7 linked regions of the Homo sapiens genome follow. The protein of the gene in region 5 interacts with the protein of the main gene of each other region in a pairwise test. Each region holds a gene or a part of one and is shown on either strand. Other genes may lie near its edges.

Region 1 (3,500 bases), on a different chromosome or scaffold from region 5:
TCATGTGTCGGGATAGATGAGAGTGCTGGCGAAAGCTGGCACTGCACTTGGCACACTTATAAGGTTTCTCACCAGTATGGATTCTCCTGTGTGTCCTCAGGTTGGCTCTATGATTGAAGATCTTTCCACAGTCACCACATTTATGTTTTTTCTCTCCTGAATGAATTTTCTGATGCAAAACTAGGTATGAATGATCGCTGAAGTTTTGGTCACACTCAGGACATTTGTACACATTTTTGGCTCCTTCCCAGGGAGAATCAAGAATTTCAGAAAGTGTGTTGGTTCCTAAATATTCAGAGAGTTCTACTAATGGGGTGTGGTTTTCAATGGTAACTAAAAGGCTGATGACCCTTCTCTTGTAAGTGGGAGTTCCACTTAATATTTTCGCTTCAGGGTTTCCAACTCCATCCTCAGAGGATTTTTCTGGGTAAGGGACAAGGGGTGCAGCAATGGGGTACTTTTCTAAGGCAAGCTCGTCAAGTTCCATAGACTCTAGGCTTAACTGCTGATTAATCTCAGGCTTGCCTTCCTCTCCTGTTGATAAAAACAAAAGAAAGCAAAACATAGACAATATCTTCAAGGGATACTGGGGAAAAAGTAAGCTAAGGTAGTTACAAACAGGACCAGGAAACCTTAGAAGGGTTATTCTATAACCCAGACACTAACCACACAAAATCAGGACCAAGCAGACTCTCCTGGCCTCCCAGAAGATCCAGTTTTGGGTGAATATCCAAAGGTAAGGAGAGAATAGCTATAACTAAGTCAGAGTCCAGTGGGATAGGTACTAAGGACAATCTCAGTAGCAGCTATCTAGAGGTGAACTTTTCCATCTAATCTATTTAGGCCTCAAGAGCCTTTCATTTTTGAAGCTATCTCAAGTGACAGCAGAACAATTAACAATTGGAAAAAAGATTAGGATTCATATTTATCAACAAAGAGAGGGGTTGGGCAGTGTCTCACGTCTGTAATCTCAGCACTTTGGGAAGCTGAGGTGGGAGCATCACTTGAGGCTAGGAGTTTGAGACCAGTCTGGGCAACACAGTGAGACCCCATCTGTACAAAAAATAATTTTTAAAAATTAGCCAGGCATGGTGGCACATGCCTATAGTCCTAGATACTCAGGAGGCTGAGACAGGAGGATCACTTGAGCTCAGGAGTTTGAGATGTGCCATTGCACTCCAGCCTAGGTGACAGAGCCAGAACTTGTTTCTTAAAAAAAAAAAAAAAAGATGACAGCAAGAATGAGTGGGAAAGAAAATAATTTTTAAAAAGAGGCTGGGCACGGTGGCTCACACCTGTGATCCCAGCACTTTGGGAGGCCGAGGCGGGTGGATCACGAGATCAGGAGATCAAGACCATCCTGGCTAACACGGTGAAACCCCATCTCTACTAAAAAAAAATACAGAAAATTAGCTGGGCGTGGTGGCCTGCGCCTGTCGTCCCAGCTACTCGGGAGGCTGAGGCAGGAGAATGGCGTGAACCCAGGAGGCGGAGCTTGCAGTGAGCCGAGATCGCGCCACTGCACTCCAGCCTGGGCGACAGAGCAAGACTCTGTCTCAAAAAAAAATAATAATAATAATTAAAAAAGAAAAAAGAAAAAAAAGCAATCAAGTGAGCATTTTTCTTCCATAACAAAGAAACACACGGGTTATCAGAAATAGTTTTATTATCACCAGGAGAACTCTCCAAAATCTCTTTACTCCTCACTGAGGAAAGATCAAGGTAGAAGGCTGTGTGTACTGCATGAAAATAACAGCCAATCTACTTACAAGAATGGCTGACAAAACTAACATTCCTGTGTAATATTTTCCAAGTATTCTTCAGTTATAAAGCAAATATATCAATACAAAAGGAACTTTTCTTTCCAGAGAAACAAAGTTCTACAGTTTTCCCAACTCACTGACTAGAAAGGGCTGCAGTATAGTTCATGGGAATCCAAACAGTACCAAGTGGTTTTGCTGATTTGAGGGGACTGAGTTCAGAGATCAGGGATGCCAAGGCAGCTAGAATTTGAAAGCAAAACAGCAAAGAGGCAGCTGTTCAGAAAGAGAGCTCAGGTCATCTACATGGGGTCCCCTTAAGACTTTCCTGAGGCTAGGTACAGTGGCTCAAACCTGTAATCCCAGCACATTGGGAGGCTGAGGTGGGAGAATTGCTTGAGCCACGGAGCTCGAGACCAGCCTGGGCAACATGGCAAAGCCCCATCCCTACAAAAAAAAAACAACAAAAAAAGACAAGCATGGTAGTGCATGCCTGTAGTCCCAGCTACTTGGGAGGCTGAGGTGGGAGGACTGCTTGAGCCTGGGAGGTCAGGGCTGCAGTGAGCCGTGATTGTGCCACTGCACTCCAGCCTGGGTGACAGATCAAGATACTGTATCAAAAAAAAAATAACCCCACAACTTTGGCTGAGTAGTAATCTACAAGTGCATGAAGAAACTACCCAATGCCGTGGAAAGAACCACCTAAAAGGAATAACAGAGCAATAACCAGTTCATGTTGCCTCCAGCCAAAGTGGAAAGACATAAGACATTGAGCAGCAACGTCCACAGAAAAAAACTGCCTTAGCAGTAACTCAAATAAGTCCTAGCAGAAAGGTTGATCTGAACCTATCCTAACAAAGCAAAAAAAAAAAGCACACCTTGAAACAGTCAAACTGACTCCAAGTAACTTAACTGCCTCCCACAACAAAGTCCAAAATATTTTTAAAAATACAACGAAATCCCGGGTCCAACAACATAAAATTCTTAATCTAACATCCGACCAAAATTTACCCAGGAAGTAAAGAAAATATAGAAAATATAACCCATAACTAGAAGACAAATCAATCAATAGAAACAGACCCAGAAATGACATCAATGTTAAAACTAGCAAGAAAAAAAAGTTTAAATAACCATTATAAATATACTCCATACATTTACGCAGACAGAAGACAACATGAACATGATGAAGAGAGAAGTGGAAGAAACAAAATATGAGTTATTCAGAATAACTAGTTACTCTAGTTATTTTTTTCTGACTAGGATTGAGTATCTCAACTATTCCAAACTATTTAGAATAACTACTTAGAATAGATAGTTTAGATACTCAATCCTAGTCAGAAATAAAATCTAGTCAGGCACAGGAGTCCATCTGTGTATGGTTCCCCTTAGGTGAGTAAGGCATAGCACCCCTTAAGAGTAAATCAATCTCCAGTCTTTAGCAAATGATAGTGATCGATACTAATGGGATTTCCCAAGTAAAATTGTAAACTGCAACAAATGTTTGTGAAAGATTACCAAATACTGCCATCTCTTGTACTAAACCACAGGCACTGTACTAGACTGAATTTTTGTCTTTAAGAGATCATCTCGGCCGGGCTCAGTGGCTCATGCCTGTAATCCCAGCACTTTGGGAGGCCGAGGCGGGTGATCACAAGGTCAGGAGATTGAGACCATCCTGGCTAACACGGTGAAACCCTGTCTCTACTAAAAATACAAAAAATTAGCTGGGCATGGTGGCAG
Region 2 (3,500 bases), about 41 Mb from region 5:
CCCTGCCTTGCACCTCAGTTGCTCTGTCCAGCCCCACCCCCTTTACCTTTCCTCTGCCACCCTTGTCACCATCCTGCCCTGGGACCTTTGCACTTGCTGTGTTCTCCACCCTGAACACAAACATCATCACTCCCTCAGGGTCTCCTCTTGTCCTCTTGCTGAGGCACACGCTGCGGGAAGAGCATGTCAGGCAGAAAGAATAGCCCACACAAAAGCCCTGTCTTGACCAGGTGTGGTTGGTGGTGCCTGCCTGTGATCCAAGCCCTTTGGGAGGCTGAGGTGAGAGGATCACTTGAGCCAGGATTCCCAGGCTGCAGCGAGCTATGATTGCAACACTGCACTCCAGCCTGAGCAACAGAGCAAGACCCTGTCTCAAAAAAAAAAAAAAAAAAAGCCCTATTTTAGGTCCTTTGGGGTGTGACGGAATGCCATACTCTGGTGGCTTAGAAACAGCATTTATTGGCCGGGCACAGTGGCACATGCCTGTAATCCCAGCACTTTGGGAGGCCAAGGTGGGTGGATCATCTGAGGACAGGAGTTTGAGACCAGCCTGACTAATATGGTGAAACCTCATCTCTACTAAATACAAAAAATTAGCTGAACATGGTAGCGCATGCCTGTAATCCCAGCTATGCAGGAGGCTGAGGCAGGAGAATCGCTTGAACCCGGAAGGTGAAGGTTGCAGTGAGCCAACATTGTGCCACTGCACTCCAGCCTGGGCACCAAGAGCGAAACTCTTATCTCAAAAACAAAACAAAACAAACAAACAAAAAAACAAAAAAAGAAAGAAAGAAAGAAACAGCATTTATTTCCACACAGTTCTAGGGGCTGGAAGTCCAAGGTCAAGGTGCCGGCAGGTTTGGTGTCTGGTGAGGGCTGCTTCCTAGTTCATAGACCGGGCCCTCTTGTTGTGTCTTCATTTGGAGGAAGGGGCAAGGGAGCCTTCTGGGTCCTCTTTTATAAGGGCAGGAATCCAACGCCTGAGGGCTCCAGCCTCATGTCATCATCACCTCCCAGAGGCCCCACCTCCTAGCACCACCACAAAGGGTTAGGATCTCACACAGGAAGTGGGGAGGACAAGCTTCAGACGTAGCCTGTCCAGCAGCAGCAGGAGTGTACCCGGAGGAGCCAAAGGCCGAGCACTCTCTGCTGTATGCACACAGCCTACTAGTTGGTTCAGGGAATGCCTGTGTGTGAGGGGCTGAGCCCACACATAACATGAGGCCAAGCTTGCTGAGAGACCTGCCATGTCCCTCGGGAGAAGGGGAGGCTGGAGCCCTGTTTAGAGAGAGAAAACCAGGCAGAGCCTCAGAGCAGGTAGCCACTTACCTGCAGCCACACAGCCTGGAAAGGACCTCCCAGCAGTGTGAGCCCCCTCCTCTGGGGCTAGCCCCAGCACAGTGGATCCACAGGCAGCTGCCTCCTTCCCTCTCTCAGCACCAGGAGGTCATTTGTCCATCTGTCTTCCCATTCTGTTAGAACTAAAGCATCAGAAGTCAGTGGTGAGTTTCTCGCCAGCGTGCAGGTCCAGTGTACACCAGGCAATTGGTATAAATCCTTCAGCATCACAGCCCCACTAGAAGTAACTATATGTATGGCTTCTGTTATGGCTTTCTAAAAAACAGTGACTTCCTGGGCTCATATAAAAACAGATCCCTGCTTTCCACTGAAAATGTGCAAAGCAGACAGGGTAACCTGCAATAGCTTGAGATCACCATCTCTAACGACCCTGGGCCCACGAGCCAGCATGAACCTCTGAGCCTGGGAGACCCTGGGCAGCTCCTTCACTGATGGAGCCCTGTAGAAGGGGAGCATAGTGAGTTGAATAGTGTCCCCATAATGTGAAATCTGGGATCACTGTTGGCTGATTCTGTCTGGTGAGGGCTCTCTTCCTGGTTTACAGATGGCCGCCTTCTCCCTGTGTCCTCACACGCAGAGAGGACAGAGAGAGCAGAGAGTAAGTGAGCCCCCTGGTGTCTCCTCTTATAAGGACGCTAATCCTATTAAGGAGGATGCCCTCATGACCTAATCATCCTCCAAAGGCCCCACATCAAACGCTGTCACACTGGGAATTAAAGTTTCAACTGATTTTTCCCCAGAAAAGAAAACTGTCTTTCCAGTTATCTTAGCTCCAGCTTACAAAAAAAATCACAGATTAGGTGGCTGAAGCAATAAACACTTATTTCTTCACAGTGCTAGAGGCTGGGAGTCTGAGATCAGAGTGCCAGCATGGTCAGACCACACTGAGGACTCACTTCCTGGCTTGCAGACGGCTGCCTTCTTGCCATGTGTTCACCTGACAGACAGCGAGCTCTGGTGTCGCTTCCTCTTCTTATCAAAACATTAGTCCCAGCCAAGCGCGGTGGCTCACGCCTGTAATCCCAGCACTTTGGGAGGCCAAGGTGGGTGGGTCACCTGAGGTCAGGAGTTTGAGACCAGCCTGGCCAATATGGTGAAACCCCCTCTCTACTAAAAATACAAAAATTAGCCGGGCATGGTGGCGTGCACCTGTAGTCCCAACTACTCAGGAGGCTGAGGCAGAAGAATTGCTTGAACCCGGGAGGCGGAGGTTGCAGTGAGCCAAGACTGTGCTCCAGCCTGGGCAACAGAGCAAGACTCCATGTCAAAAAAAAAATAAAACAGTCCCATTGTGGGGGCCCCACCCTCATGACCCCCTCTAAAGCTAATCACCTCCCAAAGGCTCCATCTCCACAAAGCATCACCTTGGGAGTTAGGGCTTCCATGTATAAATTTTGAGGGGGCACAATTCAGTTCACAGCACCAGATTACAGGGCCATATTTTAAGAGCTGACAGATTCATGCTTTTTTTTTCTTTTTCAGGGATCTTTTAAATTTGTTTTTAGTTCCATTAAGTCAGTGATTCCCAACTGGGGGCAATTTTGTCCCCAGGGGAGGGGACACCTGGCAGTGTCTGGAGACTTTTTAAAGAAAATTCAGACAGGGTCTCACACTGTCACCCAGGCTAGAGTGCAGTAGTGTGATCACTACTCACTGCAGCTTCAACCTTCTGAGCTCAGCTGATCCTCTTGCCTCAGCCTCCTGAGTAGCTGGGACCACGGGTGCACAACATCATGCCTGGCTAATTTTTTTTTTCATTTGTAGAAATGAGATCTTGCTGTGTTGCCCAGGCAGCAGACAGTTTGCTGGTCTCAAACTCCTGGGCTCAAGCAACCACCTGCCTTGGCCTCCCAAAGTGCTGGGATTGCAGGCATGAGCCACCACGTCCGGCCTGGAGACATTTTTCATTGTTACAACTCAGGGGTTGAGGGGTAGTGTCCCTGGCAGCCAGTGTGGAGAGACCAGGGACGCTGCTCAACATCTCACAACACACAGGATGGGTCCCACCACACCAAATTATTGGACCCAAAATGTCATTGGCACAGAGGTCCAGGGACCCCATGCTAAGTTCTTACCAGTTCAGCTGTTAGCCATTTTTCCAGCTCAGGACAAGTGGCAACATTTAATTTTTTTTTCTATCT
Region 3 (3,500 bases), about 20 Mb from region 5:
GTAAAAACACTGAAAAGCAAATCATGATAATAAAAGTAATAGAAAAACACTGAAGGCATTTCTATTAGATTCTAAACAGACAAGGATGCCTACTGCCTCAATTATATAATCTAATTACAAATAACTAAGGAAAGCAGGGAATAATATTAGTATGTAGAAATCAACAGCTTCATATATGCCAACAATGACTCCATTCATAGCAACATAAAACAAAACATCCAGAAATAAACTTAGTAAGAAGTGTCCAAACCTGTATGAAAAAAATTTTAAAACACCCTAGAGGACCCAAAAAGAAACGAGAATACGTATCACGTACATAAAGAGGAATATTTAATGTCATAAAAATGTCCCTATTCCCAAGTTATTTTATAAATTTAATGCAATCCCAATAAAAGTAACAAACTAGTTCTACCTTTTCCCCCTCTGGAACGAGACAAGCTAATCCTAAAATTTACAAAGAAAAATAAACAGGCAAGAATAGCCAGGAAACACTGAAAAGGACGAGCAATTAAGAGACTAGCTATACCACAAAGTAAAACACAATGATAAAGCCTCAATAGTAAAAAGATAAATATTTTCCCTGGTTGTTACACCTGGGCTATAGCAGTGTCCTCAGTCTTTCTGCTCACACCCAGAAACAGACCAAATAAATGTGAGAATTTAGTATATAATCAAAGTGGCATCCTAAAAATAGTAAACATAAGACCTTTTTTTAATGTGTGTGAGATGGAGTTTGGCTCTTGTTGCCCAGGCTGCAGTGCAGTGGCACAATCTCAGCTCACTGCAACCTCCGCCCTCCTATGTTCAAGCGATTCTCCTGTCTCAGCCTCCGAATAGCTGGGATTCAGGCATGTGCCACCACACCCAGCTAATGTTTTGTATTTTTAGTAGAGACAGGGTTTCTCCATATTGGCCAGGCTGGTCTCGAACTCCTGACCTCAAGTGATCCACCCACCTTGGCCTTGCAAAGTGCTGGGATTGCAGGCGTGAGCCACCGTGCCCAGCCAGGTAAGACCTTTTAATAAATGATGTCAAAGAACGTGGTAGCCAATTGGAAAAAGGTAAAGCTGGATGCATATCTGATAGCATACACCAGGATAAAATCTAAATGGATTATAAATTAAAATAAAAACAAAATCTTAAAAAAACTATTGCTCTGACTTGGGAAGCCAAGGTAGCAGGATCACTTGGGCCCAGGAGTTTGAGACCAGCCTGGGCAACACAGGGAGATCTTATCTCTACAATTTTTTTTTTTTTAAATTAGCGAGGATATGAAGGCTGCAGTCAGCTGTGATCACGCCACTGCACCCCAGCCTGGGTGACAGATCAAGATCCAACTCTAAAACAATCAAACAACAAAAAACTGTAACTTTATAAGAATTTGAAAATATCGGTGAAACTTAAGAGTGGAAAAGTCTGATAACCATAAAAGACTGATGAATCAGCCACGCGCGGTGGCTCACGCCTGTAATCCCAGCACTTTGGAGGGCCGAGGCGGGCGGATCACGAGGTCAGGAGATCGAGACCATCCTGGCTAACATGGTGAAACCCCGTCTCTACTAAAAATACGAAAAAATTAACCAGGCGTGGTGGCATGCGCCTGTAGTCCCAGCTACTTGGGAGGCTGAGGCAGGAGAATGGCGTGAACCCGGGAGGCGGAGCTTGCAGTGAGCCGAAATCGCACCACTGCATTCCAGCCTGGGGGACGGAGAGATACTCCATCTCAAAAAGAAAAAAATGTAACTAGATTTTTTTTTTTTTTTGAGACGGAGTCTCACTCTGTTGCCCAGGCTAAAGTGCAGTGGTGTGATCTCGTGCACCACAATGACTGGCTAAATTTTTTGTATTTTTAGTAGAGACGGGGTTTCACCATGTTGACCGGGCTAGTCTCAAACTCCTGACCTCAAGTGATCTACCCGCCTCAGCCTCCCAAAGTGCTGGGATTACAGGCGTGAGCCATCGCGCCCAGCCAAAAGTTTTGAAAATAAAAAGAAAACCATAGCAGCATGGTGGTGCACTGCCTGTAGTCCCCGCTACTTGGGAGTCTGAGACTTGCTTGGGCCCAGGGGTTCAAGGCCAGCCTGTGCAACACAGTGAGACTGTGCCTCTAAAAAATACATGAATAAAAAGGTCTTTGGTGTGGTGCGGGGATGTCTCTGTGCTCACCAACCACAGGGGGCTCATTCTAAGCACGGCTATGTAAAAAAAGAAACTATTATTACTAAATTAAAACAAAACCTCTTATTTCTGCAAGATTAAAAAAAAAAGAAACCACTGTGAACAATGTCCAAATGCAAATGAAAACTTCAAAAAAAAAAAAAAAAAAAGCCACCACTCATTTCATACAGGGCTAACCTTTCTAATTTATAAACAGCTCCTCTAAGGAGAAGACACCCCATAGAAAAATGGTGAAAAGGATATGAATAGACAGTTCCTAGATTAATACATACAGGCCTTTAAACATATAAAAAAAAATTCTCATTCATAAGAAGGGATGTAAATGAAACCTACACTGAAGTTCAGATTGTCTCTTATGTCCCTAGCGAAATACCAAATATTCGACACTACACTCATGGTGAGTTTAAGGGGAAGACGCTCTCGCACATGGCTTGTGGGAGTGTAAGTACTTACCCACTGGGCAGCGCCATTTGTATTAATAGCAGTCTAGTTTAGAGCTACTCCTGTGTCAGTATAAAATGGCGCACATAAAAAAATTATTCATTACTGCATTGTTAGCAACAGCAGAAGACTGGAAACAATCCAAATGCTCAACAACGGGATTAACTGAATCAACCATGGTGCATCCAAATAATGACATCTTATTTATACAGCAGCTGAAAAAAAAATTTCTTTTAAAGATTATGATTAAGAAGGAACACCTTGGCTGGGTGCAGTGGCTCACACTTGTAATCCCAACACTTTGGGAAGCCAAGAGAGGAGGACTGCTTGAGCTCAGGAGTTCGAGACCAATCTGGGAAACAGTGAGACCTCATCTCTACAAAAAGTAAAAAAGCCAGGTGTGGTGGAGTGTGCCTGTGGTCCCAGCTACACAGGCGGCTGAGGCAGGAAGATCACTTCAGCCCAGCAGTTGGAGGCTGCAGTATGCCATGTTAACACCATTGCACACCAGCTTGGGTGACAGAGCGAGACTATTTCAAAAAAAAAAAAAAAAAAAAAAGAAAGAAAAAAGGAAGGGCTATCTCTAGGACATACTGTTATTAAAGAAAGTGAGATATAGGGAGGTGCATGTGGTATGCTATCTTTTATGTAAGGTGGAGGGAAACAGGAGTGAAGAGAAATATATAATAGTGACAGAACAAAAAACAAAAAACCCACTTGAAGGATAAACAAGAAGCAAACAAAAAAAAACAAGACATGTTTACATAAGACAAAGAAGAATGTGACTGGGGGAAGGGAGCAGAATGAGATATCTCTGTGAGATAGATCTTTGTTGAATCACAGAAATGCATTACTTACTTCAATAGTAATCAAATTCATTT
Region 4 (3,500 bases), 7.0 Mb from region 5:
CCAATATTTGATTTTATCCCCATATTCAACTTAATCACAGTATCCCAGGATATTCAGAATTTGCAGATGTAAATACTGTAGAGAGAATAATTATTTTGTTACTTTTACTGACTGGTATTTCTGCCCTTGCTAGAACCATTTCTACCACTGTTATTCACGTAAATATAGGCCCAGCATGGTGGCTCATGCCTGTAATCTCAGCACTTTGGGAGGCTGAGGCGGGCAGATCATTTGAAGTCAGGAGTTCAAGACTGGCCTGGCCAACATGGTGAAACCCCGTTTCTACTAAAAATACAAAAAAATTAGCCAGGCATGGTGGCACATGCCTGTAGTCCCAGTTACTTGGGAGGCTGAGGTGGGAAGATTGCTTGAACCTGAGAGGCGGAGGTTGCAGTAAGCCAAGATCATGCCACTGCACTTCCAGCCTGGGTGACAGAAATGAGACACTGCCTCAAAAAAAAAAAAAAGAAAAAAAGTATATAAATAATATATACAATATATATATAGCGAGAGACAGAGAAGGCAACAAAGGTTGTGAGAACATCATATGCCATTTTCTTGGTCCAGAAATGCATTACATTAGTAAATCAATATACCCTCCTTTCAACCAGCTAGATGAGATGTCCCAGGGGGTGGGGAGCAGGGTAGGAATTCTGTTTCCAACAAGCAACCTAGGTGCCCCAATTAAACCTTCCATGCATAACTATTTCAAATGCAACACAAAGTACAGACAGATGATAGGTTTCAAATTCATGTGCTGGCAAGAAATTAACATTCAGAAAATTAAAAATTTATGATTTCTAAAGGGCAATTACAATTGCTAAAAAAAAAGCAAAATGGAAACCCACAACAAAAGCCCTAAGTAAATAGCTTTTAGATTATACACAGCCAATAATAATAATAATAATAATAATTTGTTTCTTAAATATAGTCTGCTGCATAAGCGTCCCCTGGAACACTTTAAGTAACTCTGACACCCAGATCATATCTCAGTTCAATTCTCTTTGGGGTGGGCTGATGAATCAGTATTTTAATAAACTCTACATGAAATTTTTATGAAGGCTGAAGTTTCAAAGCCAGTTGTAGCAATAAATGCAAGGGAAGCACAGAAAAAGAGTTGAGGAACATAAATACAGCTAAGAACCACGTGGGGGCAGAAGATAAGGAATTGAACCATTTCTAACTGGAGTTACTGATGAGAGACAGAGAAGGAGCCTAGGCAATCACTGCAAAATATAGTGGCTGTAGATTTTTCATTTTGAAGGAAAATATAAACAGATTGAAGAGAGATAAAATCTTAAGCACAATGAACCAGATAATACCAACGGTAAAAAGAATATCTGAACAGCAGCCAGAGGAGAAAAAGACAGGTTACCTTTTAAGCAATAGTTCTCAAACTTTAAGTTACATGGGAGTCACCTGGAGGTCTTGTTAAAACACACCGTAAATATCTCTCCATTAAGAAACAAAGTAAGCCTGGGCATGGTGGCCCACACCTGTAATCCCAGCATGCTGGGAGGCCAAGGCAGGTGGATCACTTGCACGCAGGAGTTCGAGACCAGCCTGGGCAACATACCAAGACCCTGTCTCAAAACAAAACAAAACGAAAAACTCACATTTCTAGGCTCCTAAAACCGCTGCCTGGCCAACATGGTGAAACCTTGTCTTTACTAAAAATACAAAAATTAGCTGGGTGTCATGGCCCATGCCTGTAATCCCAGCGACTCAGTAGGCTGAGGCAGGAGAATTGCTGGAACCCAGGAGGCAGAAGTTGCAGTGAGACGAGATTACGCCATTGCACTCCAGCCTGGGCAACAAGAGTGAGACTCTGTCTCAGAAAACAAACAAACAAACATTAGACTGACAGCTGACTTCTCATCATTAACAGTGGAAGCCAGAAGATAATGGAACATCTTCATAGTTCTGAAATATAAAATTCTATTACCACCAAAAATGTCCACTGAGAAAGAGAGAAAGAGGTGTTTTCTGAGCACCAAAAAACAAAGTTCCTGTGGGCTTGCAACCCACAGAAAAGAGACATCATCAAAGACATACCTCAGGGAGAAAGAAGTAATTAAAGAACCAAAGCAAACAGTGGAAGAATTACACCAAAAAGTGTAAGAACCAAGTAAAGTGCTCAAAGTGATAAACATGTGAGTATAATGAAACAAGAAATGATGGTATGCAATAGCAATAATAATTTCTTCTGAGGTTTAAAAAAAGAACTCAATATGTGCAACTATGATATATCAATAAAGAAAGAATGAAAATGCATAAGAAAACCATGTAAATCAGGAGAGTAACATATGCAAATCTAGATTTAGTGAATGAGCATGGGTAAGAATTATTTAGAACAACCACTGAAATAATAGAGTAAATAAATTCAAAATGTACAGAAAATAAAAAAGGAGAATGACAAAAATACACAAAAGAAGCTAGAGAAAAAACAGAAGACAAATGTAACATTCAAATATATTAATACAGAAGATGCTAACAGAATAAATGCTTTAACTAAAATACTAATATTCACAGAATAGATTAATCCAATTATATGCTACGTACAAGAGATATCTAAAATATAAGAATACAATAAGAGCCGGGCGCGGTGGCTCATGCCTGTAATCCCAATGCTTTGGGAGGCCAAGGCAGGTGGATCACCTGAGGTTGGGAGTTCGAGACCAGCCTGACCAATATGATGAAACCCCATCTCTACTGAAAATAAAAAAATTAGCTGGGTGTGGTGCCATGCGCCTGTACTTCCAGCTACTTGGGAGGCTGAGACAGGAGAATCACTTGATTCCAGGAGGTGGAGGTTGCAGTGAGCCAAGATCGCGCCATTGCACTCCAGCCTGGGCAAAAAGAGTGAAACTCCGTCTCAAAAAAAAGAAAGAAAGAAAGAAAGAAAGAAAGAAAAAAGAGTACAATAAGAATGGAAATAAAAGGATATATAAGGCAAGTAAAAAAAAAAAAAAAGAAAGCTGGTTTGAATGTTAGTATCAGACAGAATAGATTAAGGCAAAAAGGCTCATAGAGAAAAATGAAGTATTACATAATAAAAAGTTATAAATCCAAAAAGAGGTGTGTGTGTGTGCCTGTGTGTATAAAACACAGCCTCAAAAAAAAGGAAAACACAAAAATTAAAAAAAAAAAAGGGGGGACAGAATTCTAAGGAGAAATGGATGAAGCCACCACCAGAGCTCTCACAAATCCAGTTTAAGCAGGCAGTTCAATAACTATGTGCAGATTGAACATGATGAGACAGCACTCATGGGGCCATGTTTGTCTCAGAAAATGCTTGACCACAGAGCAATGCAGTTGGCAAACAATGACCAAAAGATAACCAGAAAAAAAGTCACAGAAATGAAAATTAAAAGAAAAAAATTCTAAATCTGCATGCCAAAGAAGCCATGATATTTGATATTTATAATTAAAATACAATAAAGTATGATACTGCAATTCTTTGGGATGTGACAGGCATTCAACATAAGAAACTGGAAAGA
Region 5 (3,500 bases):
CAGACTGGTCTCGAACTCCTGACCTCAGGTGATCCACCCGCCTCAGCCTCCCAAAGTGCTGGGATTACAGGCATGAACCACCACGCCCAGCCAAATTTTTGTATTTTTAGTAAAGATGGGGTTTCACCATGTTGGCCAGGCTGGTCTTGAACTCCTAACCTCAAGTGATCCACCCACCTCGGCTTCCCAAAGTGGCAGGATTACAGGCATGAGCCACCGTGCCCTGCCACCATAATACTTTTTGAGTGAGTACATGAAAAATAGTTATCATGGTGCCCAACACATAGTAGGTGCTCAATAAATACTTGTTGCATGAATGAATGAATGAAAAAGTTATCAGAGTACCTGGCACACAGTAGACACTAATACTTGTTGAGTGAGTGAATAAAAGAGTTATGGTGCCCAACATGTAGTAGGTGCTCAATAAATACTTCCTGAATGGATGAATGAATGAATGAATAAATGAAAAAGTTATTACAGTGCCTGGTGCACAGTAAGCAGTTAAAAAGTACTTTTTGAGTGAATAGATGAAAAAAGTTATCACAGTGCCCACTACACAGTAGGCACTCAATAAATACTTGTTGAGTGAGTGAATAAATGAAAAACAGATATCATGGTGCTTGATACGTAGTACGTGTTCAAGAAATACTTGAATAAATGAATGAAAGAGCTGTCACAGTGTTTGGCACATAGTAGGCACTCAATAACTATTTTTATTTATTTATTTTTTTACTGAGACAGCGTCTCACTCTTGTCGCCCAGGCTGGAGTGCAATGGCGCGATCTCAGATCACTGCAACTTCCACTCCCTGGGTTCAAGCGATTCTCCTGCCTCAGCCTACCTAGTAGCTGGGATTACAGGCACCCGCACCACGCCCCGCTAATTTTTGTAATTTTAGTAGAGATGGGGTTTCACCATGTTGGCCAGGCTGGCCTGGAACTCCTGACCTTAGGTGATCTACCCATCTCCACCTCCCAAAGTGCTGGGATTACAGGCATGAGCCACTGCGCCGGGCCCATAACTGTTTTTTGAATGAGTAAATGAAAAATTATTATCACAGTGCCAGGACACAGTAGGCACTCAATAAATACTTGTTAAGTGAGTGAATGAATGAAAATTGCACTCAATAAATACTTGTTGAGTGAGTGAGTGAATGAAAATCAGTTACTGTGATGCCTGACACATAGTAGATGCTCAATAAATACTTGTATGAGTGAATAAAAAAGTTATTACAGTGCCTAGCACACAGCAGGCACTCAATGCTTGTAAAAATGAATGAATGAGGTTGGGTGTGGTGGCTTCCACCTGTAATCCTAGCACTTTGGGAGACCGAGGTGGGTGGATCACCTGAGGTCAGGAATTTGAGACCAGCCTGGCCAACATGGGGAATCCCATCTCTACTAAAAACACAAAAATTAGCCGGGCATGGTGGCAGGCACCTGTAATCCCAGCTACTTGGGAGGCTGAGGCAGGAGAATCACTTGAACCCAGGAGGTGGAGGTTGCAGTGAGCCGAGATCGTGCCACTGCACTCCAGCCTGGGCGACAGAGCGAGACTCCGTCTCAAAGAAAAAAAAAAAGAACGAATGAAAAATTCATTGCATAAATACTTGTTGAATGAATGAATGAACTCCCAGCAGGTCCCTGCCCAATTTTAAGGCAAGTTCCAGATTTTACACCAGGGTCTCGGGTGCCCTCCCAGGGCCTCAGTTCCTTTTTTTTTTTTTTTTTTTTGGACGGAGTTTCTGTCTTGCTGCCCAGGCTGGAGTGCAGTGGTGAGATCTTGGCTCACTGCAACCTCCACCTCCCGGGCTCAAGTGATTCTCCTGCCTCAGCCTCCTGAATAGCTGGGATTACAGGTGCATGCCACCACACCTGGGTATTTTTGTATTTTTAGTAGAGATGGGATTTCACCATGTTGGCCAGGCTGGTCTCGAACTCCTGACCTCAGGTGTTCCACCCTCCTCAGCCTCCCAAAGTGTTGGGATTACAGGCGTGAGCCACCGTGCCCGACCTTAGTTTCCCCTTCTTGTAACATGGGCACAGTATGTGCCCACAGCCGGCCTAGCCCTCCTGCCACCTGCTGTCACTCCCCATCCATCCTGCTCTGCAGATTTTAACAACGACGACTACATTTGTGCGTGGGACCTGGAGCAGACGGTGACCAAACTGACGCGGGGGGGGCTGAGTGCCGAGGAGGTGAGCCTGGTATGTGAGAAGGTGCTGGATGAGGCTGATGGAGACCATGATGGGCGGCTGTCCCTGGAAGATTTCCAGAACATGATCCTCCGGGCACCAGACTTCCTCAGGTGATGCTCTCCGTCACCGCCCACAGTCCATTTGCACATCTGAAGGGGCTCTTACGCAGACAGTTCACAGACTCTGTTTCTGAAAATTCCTCTATTCATTCTTTCATGACCTTGGGAAACTTTCTCAATTTCCCTAGTCTCAGTCCCTGCATCTGTAAAATGGGGATAATTAGGGACCCCCTGGGCACCTCTTGCGAGTGGATACACCTCTTTCAGCAAGCAGAATGTGGCTGGACTTCAGCCCTTGTTGCCTGAACAGTTTGCAGTGAACAGACTGTGTAACTGTACTTGGCAGCCTTTGGGGAAAATCAGCCGCCACTGCAGGGCAAAGTACGGCCAATAGGCCAGTCTGACCCAAAGCCTGGTTTTGTACCTCCTGTGAGCTAAGAATGGCTTTTATATTTTCAAAAGATCAAAAAACAATCAAAGAATAATAATATTCCAACCAGGTGGGGTGGTTCATGCCTTTAATCCCAGCACTTTGGGAGGCTAAGTGGGGAGGATCTCTTGACCCCAGGAGCTTGAGACCAAACTGGGGAACATAAGGAGAGTCCATATCTACAAATAAATAAATAAATAAATAGCCAGGTATGGTGGTGCATGCCTGTAGTCCCAGCTACTTGGGAGGCTGAGGCGGGAGGATTGCTTGAGCCCAGGAGGTCAAGGCCGCAGTGAGCTCAGATTGTGCCATGCACTCCAGCCTGGGTCACAGAGTGAGATTCTGTCTCAAAAATAAATAAACACATTAAAAATTTTTTTTTAATTTAAAAAAAGATTATTCCATGACACGTGACAGTGATACGAAATTCACTTTTCTGTGTCCATCAGTAAAGTTGTATTGGCTCACAGCCACACCCATTTGTGTACATTTTGTCTATGGCTGCTTGTGTGCTTCAACAACAGAGTTGCGTCATGGTATAAAGTTGAAAACATCAACTATTTGGCCATTTACAGAAAAAGGTTTGCTGAACCCCAAATTAATATATGGAGAAAATTCAGCACAGCTCCTGGCACACAATAGGTGTTTAATAAATTGCTGTTGCTATTATTATCTTATAATTTTTAAATTTCACTTTATTTTTTATTTTTTGAATTGACAAATAATGATTGTACATATTCATGGGGTACACAGTGATGTTTCTTTTTGTTTGTTTGTTTGTTTTGAGACGGAGTCTTGCTCTGTTGCCCAGGC
Region 6 (3,500 bases), on a different chromosome or scaffold from region 5:
AGAACCCTTGGGAGAAAAGAAGGATGAGGTCTCAGGGAAACAAAGGCAGAAGTAAGAAGAGGGGCAGAAAATGGGGAAACTAGTGCCTTCTCCACTCTATGAACACAGAGTATAGATAAGGAGAGTACAGATACTGAGGCAAAAAGATTCCAAGGTTTTTCTAGAAATAGCACAAAGCTAATGGAAGATCTAAGGCTGTAGTGTAGCTGCTGGTGCCCAGACAAAGCAATCCTCATTCTGAAATTTAAAGAATCTGTGGCCTGTTCACTCCCAATCCATTCACCCTAAGTCATGGTTCCCAAACCGTGTGTGAAATTCACCAGTTCAGGATACCATCTGAACTTAGAGCACCACAGCCAACTCAGAGAGGCATGTGGAGTATTTTAAATTCGAAGGAAACACAGTAACATCTTTCAGATACCATGCAATCTGCTATCATTAGGTTGTTTGGCCCTAACTATGAGGTATTTCTTTTGGACCAGGGGTGAAAATTACTAAAATATGAAATGTGCTGTGATCCATGAAAGCTTGGGAACCTCTGCTCTACAAAGCATGCCCCACCTATAACCAACTTCGTAGTCTTCTTACTCAAAGAAGAGGTACATTGGAAATAGATCTATTTCCTCAATTAAAACACCATACACCAGTTACTCCTTCTTAAATATAAGTGGACAAGCAAGGAAGGATCACCCACCATGAGGAAGAATAAGAGCATATCAGAGAGACAGAGAGACTCCCTCCACCCCTGGAAACATATAATTCAGGGAAAAGAGAGGAAAAAAACACCCTCTCACCAGTATACCTAGAGATCTGAGATTATTATATTTACCCCATAGACTGCTATGATAAAGGATCACTCAGAACAAGAAAGAGCTTTTAGAGACTAAAGACATGATTACTGAAATTTAAAAAAACAAATAAACCAAAGAATAGTTTGTTTGTTTTTCTTCCTCATGTTGGGTGATCCTTCCTTGCTTGTCCACTTATATTTAAGAATGAATAACTGATGTATGGTGTTTTAATTGAGTAAATAGATCTATTTCCAAGGTACCTCTTCTTTGAGTAAGAAGACTACGAAGTTGGTTATAGGTGGGGCATGCTTTGTAGAGCAGAGGTTCCCAAGCTTTCATGGATCACAGCACATTTCATATTTTAGTAATTTTCACCCCTGGTCCAAAAGAAATACCTCATAGTTAGGGCCAAACAACCTAATGATAGTGATGAAAAAGTTAAAGGAAATTTCCCAGAACATAAAGCAAAAAGACAAAGAAAGGAAAAAAGAAGAGACAGGCATAATCCAAGAAATCCAAAATCCAGTTAAGAGGCATCCCAGAAAGAAAAAATAAAGATAAGAAGCGAAAGGAAATTATGGAAGAAATTAATGGAAAAAAATTTCCCAAAACTAAGGTAGTATATGAGTCTCCAGATTATAAGGATCCAACAAGTACCAAGGCCATTAAAAGACCCACACTTAAGCACATTCTAATTAAATCCCAAAATACCAAAGAAAAAGTTCCACAAGTTCCAGAGAGCAAAAATGGTCACCTGAAAAGAGAATTACACCAGAATCAAATTTTTCATCAAGACTGTAGGCCTGAAGACAATGAAGCAGCGTCATCAAAGATATGAAGAAAGTTACTTTAGATTTCCATACCCAGTCAGAGGATGAATAAAGTAAAAGAGACTAAATTTATATTTAGATACGCACAAATTACCCCCTTTTGCACCCTTCCTTGGAAAATACTTGAGGATGTATTAAATAGTTCCTAAAATAAGCGAGAAAGAAATGCAGGCTACACAAAATAGTGGATTCAATCCTAGAGATGGGGTGAAAGTAAGTCCCAGCATAAGAGTAGACAAATCCAGATTGGAACAGGAGGATGGAAGAGGTCTAGGTTTTAGAGAAGGATTCCATGAAAGTGTGTTTCAAAAGACTTTTCTGTGTTTTTTCAGAAAAACCCGAAGCCATGATGAAGGAATATTGTTATTTTGACAAGAGTGGGGGAAAGGCCATTATAAACTCTAGGACAATAAAAAAGCAATACAAAAAAAGGCACTGTCCAAATAAGATAAAAACAAAAGCAGGGCCTGACTTTAAGCACTTGATGGAATACAAGAAAAGATTCCATATGACTGTGAGGTTAGAAAAATTTCTCCCTTTGAACAGACAAGCAGTTGTGACACTGGACCCATCAAGTATGATTTATAATCCTAGCATACTACTTAACTCTTCTGAAACAATATTTACTTAGTTATAACTATGTAATGTCGTTTCAATTTTTTAGAGACAAGCTACGGACAAAACACTCAAGATCTGGTTGTAGAACAGTGTGGGTTTTAACAGTCTCGTAAATGTAAAAGTAGAACATGCAGTTGACAAAGGTATGAGGTGGAAGTTGGGCCTAAAAGCTAAAACTTCTCATAAAGTGGTCTGTTGATGTGGGAGAGCACACCAGACAACCTCAGGAAGTATATACTAGGGCCAACACACAAAATTCAACATCTTAATACTTTCTCTTTTAAATTTTTATTTGTTTAGTTTTTGAGACAGGGTCTTACTCTGTTGCTCAGGCTGGAGCGCAGTGGCGCAATCTTGGCTCACTACAACCTCCGCCTCCTGAGTTCAGGTAATTCTCCTGCCTCAGCCTCCCAAGTAGCTAGGAATACAGGCGTGCACCACCAAGCCTGGCTAATTTTTGTATTTTTTGGTAGAGGCGGGGTTTCACTGTGTTGGTCAGGCTGGTCTCAAACTCCTGGCCTAAAGTGATCTGCTTGCCTTGGCTTCCCAAAGTGCTGGGATTACAGGCGTGAGCCACCACGCCTGGCCCGTCTTAGTATTTTCTTACACCCTGCATCCGTATTGGGCTGAATAATCCAAGCATCTTCCAGTAATATACAGACACTAAATTCTGATATGCATTTTCCGATAAAGGTTTGCCTTAAAAACTTTCCATTCCAGTCCACTCATGTAGTCTAGGAGTTGGTACACTTTTTCTGTAAAGGTCTAGATAGTAAATATCTTTAGCCTTCTGGGCCAAAAGGCCTCCAAATAATTTTGTTGGCATCCTAGTAGGCAGTGTCCTACTTGCCAGCCTCAGCTTACCACACTTGAGCAAACTTTTCCACCATCCAGTGGGCTACAGCCACACCTCCTTCAACATCATCTGAATCTTAGCTTGGGAAAGGGGTGGGGGCACCTATTCCAAATTTGTTCCTTCTGTGGCTATTCTGCCTCAGCCTTAGAAGTACTGACTACTACATGTATTTTCTAGGGATCTCTTTACCTTAGCGTTTTGTCCTCAGTAGTTAATTCTCTGTGCCTTGTTAATAATGTTTATATTAAATTTCCTGTATTCAAATTGCTGTGTGATTTCTCTCCTTCAAATGCACTGTGACATATATTTCAATAATTACGTTAAATATAAGTGGTCTAACTACTAATTGAAAGGTTAGATTGTCCTGTTGGACAAAAGAAGCAAGACTCAACTATATGCTGTTTA
Region 7 (3,500 bases), on a different chromosome or scaffold from region 5:
GTAAACCCAGACATGCAGGGCACCATTGTCTGAGCTGTCACTGGAGGGCTGGGAGGAGACAGGGGATGGGGCAATGGCAGCCTACCCACCCCTCCTCATCACTGTCCAGGGGCATTCAGGAAACACAGGCTTCCAATATGAGGCTGCCTTTTTTTCTCACAAGCCATGCTCACTAGGAATCCATAGCGGCCATCTGCACACCGACCTGGTGGTGTCTCAAGCTTCCAGGTGTGGTTTTGGGGGCAGGGTCCTTGAGGAAGGGGGTGCTGCTGACAGTGAGGTAACCTGAGGTCAGCTCTGGACAGGGCTGGGTGGAAGAAGAGTGTAGTGACTGCTGATCCCTGTCCTTTCTAGGAATTGGGGTTACTGGGTCAGAGAAACATCTCAATACCTTCCAGGCTTCCAAGGCTGGTTGTAAACCTGCTCCTTGATAAAAGAAACTACATCCAACCTTTAGGAGCAAGGTGGGGTAACATGGGAGCAGATCTTAGTTCATTTGTTTGTTTGTTTTTGCTTGCCTGCTTGCTTTTTTGTTTTTTCTTTTTCTTTTTTTTTTTTTTTTTGAGACAGGGTTGCACACTGTTGCCCAGGTTGGAGTGCAGTGGTGCAATCATGGCTCACTGCAGCCTTCACCTCCCAGACAGGTGATTCTCCCACCTTAGCCTCCCAAGTACCTGGGACTACAGGCATGCACCACCATGCCTGGCTAATTATTTTTTATTTTTTTGTAGATATGGGATTTTACCATGTTGCCTGGGCTAGTCTCTGAACTCCTGGGCCCAAATACTCTGCCCACCTGGGCCTCCCAAAGTGCGGGATTACAGGCATGAACCACCTCACCCAGCCTACAAATTCTTATATGACAATTTGAATCTCTGCTTGGATTTGTTTTATCCTCTCTTGTGCTTGTAACTCAAACTTTAATACTTGAAAAGTTTCATCAAAATTTAAATATACTTTTCTAAATCTGTGAGAAGGCTGTCTCCCAAGATGGTTTGTTACTGCACATCTTTTCCCCGGTAGATGGAAATATCCCTTCTCTATTCTCTTTCCCTTAGTCTTTCAAAAACTCAGTGAGGAGGAAGTGCTTGCTTCTAGCTTCTGGCGGTAGGCTACATTTCCCAGCCTGTCAGAATGGCCTCTCTGCAGGCTTCAACCCTTATGAGAAATAAAGCTGTCCTTTAGCAAAGTCATCAAGCTAAGTGTCTGTCAACAGATGATGATTAAAGTGTGGTACATATACACCATGGAATACTACTCAGCCATAAAAAGAATGAAATCATGCCTTTGGCAGCAGCATGGATGAACCTGGAGGCCATTATCCTAAGTGAAATGAGTCAGAAACAGAAAGCCAAAAACTGCATGTTCTCAGTTATAAGTGGGAGGTACACAGTGGGTATATGTGGACATAGAGAGTGGAATAATAGGCATTGGAGGCTCCAAAAGGTGGGAAGATGGAAGGGGATAAAGGATGAAATATTGCCTATTGGATATAATGTACATTACTCAGATGATGAGTACACTAAAAGCCCAGACTTCACCATTACGCAATATTTCCATGTAAGAAAGCTGCACTCGTGGTGGTGTATGCCTGTGGTCCCAGCTATTCAGGAGGCTGAGGAGAGAGAATTGCTTGAGCCTGAGAGTTCGAGGCAGTGAGCTGTGATTGCACCACTGCAGTCCAGCCTGGGCAACGAAGTGAGACTCTGTCTCTAGGAAAAAAAGAAAAAGAAAGAAAAAGAAAAGAGGTGGATGCAGACTGGAGATTTAGGAAAGCCTTTTCAGCTCCTTTCTCTTGCCAAGTCTTGTTTGTGGCTTTGGTGGGTGGTTTTGTTTGGGGGCCTGTCTTCTTTATTCCCTTTTCTTTTTTCTCTTAATCAAAGCAGTCTGTTCTGGTACTGCAGTGAAACAACTCTTTCCAGTTCCTTTGCATGGTGGTTGTGCACGTAGCCTCCAGGCCTGGGCTTGCATCAGTCATTTTGTCTATTCATACAAAGGGAAATTTAGGCTTTGTTCAGTTCATCTCCTACCAGGGCATGTACTTTCACAGCTACTGCCTGGGAAGCTTTGTGTGCATGAGATATCACCAGTCTGCCAGGCTACCAACTTGACTGTAAGTGGAGAGACTAACTGATGAAGCAATGACTGTGTGCCAGGAACTGTTCTAAGTGCTTTATGTGTATGAGCCAGTCAGCCCACTATTACTGTTCTTCTCCATTTTCAGGTGAGGAAACTGAGGCTCAGATTGTTGAGAAAATTGTCCCAAGCCGCACAGCTGGTCAGGGGCAGGCCAGCATTCAGTTTCCAGAGCCTGTGTTTTTAACCATTATGTGATGCCTCCAGGGTACATTATATTCTTTTGCATGAATGTGCAAAAATATGTCTTCATGCTTCTATTTCTGTTCATTTAACTTGTTTCAATTTTTTTCTATCACAAATAATACAGCAATGAATGTTTTTGCAATAATAGCTTATAATGATAGTTAACATTTGTCGAATCGCTAACAAAGTGATGGGCTCTGTTTCAAGTTCTTTATGCATCTTAATTAATTTAATCTTTGTAGCAATCCCACTATTATTTTTTACTTATTTATTTATTTTTTGAGACAGAGTCTCGCTCTGTCGCCCAGGCTGGAGTGCAGTGGCACGATTTTGGCTCACTGCAACCTCTGCCTCCCGAGTTCAAGCAATTCTCCTGCCTCAGCCTTCCAAGTAGCTGGGATTACAGGTGCATGCCACCATGGCTGGCTGACTTTTGTATTTTTAGTAGAGACGGGTTTCACCATGTTAGCCAGCTGGTCTTGAACTCCTGACCTCAGGTGATCCACCCGCCTCGGCCTCCCAAAGTGCTGGGATTACAGGTGTGAACCACTGTGCCTGGCAAATCCTACTATTATTACTATTTAACGAATTTAATCTTTGTAACAAACCTACTATTATTACCATTTAACAGAAGAGGGAAACGAGGCACAGGACAGTTGGCTACATATTTTGTTCCAGATTGCACAATTAGAAAGTGGCAGCTTAGCACCATAAGACATAGTGAGGAAAAAAGAAAAAAAAAAAGTGGATGGGCTGGCATTGAAACCCAGAGCTGGTACTCTTATGATAGTGTCTAGACAATATCTGTGACCACACCTCTGATTGTACCTCAAGAAGAAAGATTTTTAAAGTGAAATTACTAGAGCATAAGATATAAACATTTAAAAGGTTTTTGATACATCTTACAAAAGTGCTTTTCAATAACACTGATTGATCATGCTCATTTGCATTTCCATGAGCACTGTGTAATTGATCAAGGACTCTAAAAGTTAGATAAGCCACTGATAAATGGAGATGCCCCTCTAAGTCCCTGGGCAGTAAAACCTGACCAGCATAGCCTCCAATAACCTGCATAGTGTTGAGGAGAGCTTGGATTTAAGAGATTAAGAGGGTCAAACTCTTTTCTGTCCATTTTAAAATGCAAGTTTTATTTAAGAGGAACTATCTAATATGCTGAA

What was found.
Region 1: the proteins of CIB3 (region 5) and ZNF597 interact in binary tests that used the Homo sapiens proteins (3 or more experiments, as listed by UniProt).
Region 2: the proteins of CIB3 (region 5) and ZNF835 interact in binary tests that used the Homo sapiens proteins (3 or more experiments, as listed by UniProt).
Region 3: the proteins of CIB3 (region 5) and ZNF146 interact in binary tests that used the Homo sapiens proteins (3 or more experiments, as listed by UniProt).
Region 4: the proteins of CIB3 (region 5) and ZNF317 interact in binary tests that used the Homo sapiens proteins (3 or more experiments, as listed by UniProt).
Region 6: the proteins of CIB3 (region 5) and GMCL1 interact in binary tests that used the Homo sapiens proteins (3 or more experiments, as listed by UniProt).
Region 7: the proteins of CIB3 (region 5) and TRIM2 interact in binary tests that used the Homo sapiens proteins (3 or more experiments, as listed by UniProt).

The regions. Positions count from the first base shown.
Region 1 is NC_000016.10:3,437,005-3,440,504, forward strand, and holds part of ZNF597 (zinc finger protein 597), read right to left. Parts: intron 535-3,500; coding exon 1-534. UniProt on the Homo sapiens protein: May be involved in transcriptional regulation.
Region 2 is NC_000019.10:56,665,258-56,668,757, reverse strand, and holds part of ZNF835 (zinc finger protein 835), read left to right. Parts: intron 1-3,500. UniProt on the Homo sapiens protein: May be involved in transcriptional regulation.
Region 3 is NC_000019.10:36,221,606-36,225,105, reverse strand, and holds part of ZNF146 (zinc finger protein OZF), read right to left. Parts: intron 1-3,500.
Region 4 is NC_000019.10:9,143,397-9,146,896, reverse strand, and holds part of ZNF317 (zinc finger protein 317), read right to left. Parts: intron 1-3,500. UniProt on the Homo sapiens protein: May function as a transcription factor. May play an important role in erythroid maturation and lymphoid proliferation.
Region 5 is NC_000019.10:16,163,526-16,167,025, reverse strand, and holds part of CIB3 (calcium and integrin-binding family member 3), read left to right. Parts: intron 1-2,112; coding exon 2,113-2,308; intron 2,309-3,500. UniProt on the Homo sapiens protein: Acts a an auxiliary subunit of the sensory mechanoelectrical transduction (MET) channel in hair cells. Plays a role in regulating hair cell MET channel localization and function.
Region 6 is NC_000002.12:69,832,660-69,836,159, reverse strand, and holds part of GMCL1 (germ cell-less protein-like 1), read right to left. Parts: intron 1-3,500. UniProt on the Homo sapiens protein: Possible function in spermatogenesis. Enhances the degradation of MDM2 and increases the amount of p53 probably by modulating the nucleocytoplasmic transport.
Region 7 is NC_000004.12:153,210,943-153,214,442, forward strand, and holds part of TRIM2 (tripartite motif-containing protein 2), read left to right. Parts: intron 1-3,500. UniProt on the Homo sapiens protein: UBE2D1-dependent E3 ubiquitin-protein ligase that mediates the ubiquitination of NEFL and of phosphorylated BCL2L11. Plays a neuroprotective function. May play a role in neuronal rapid ischemic tolerance.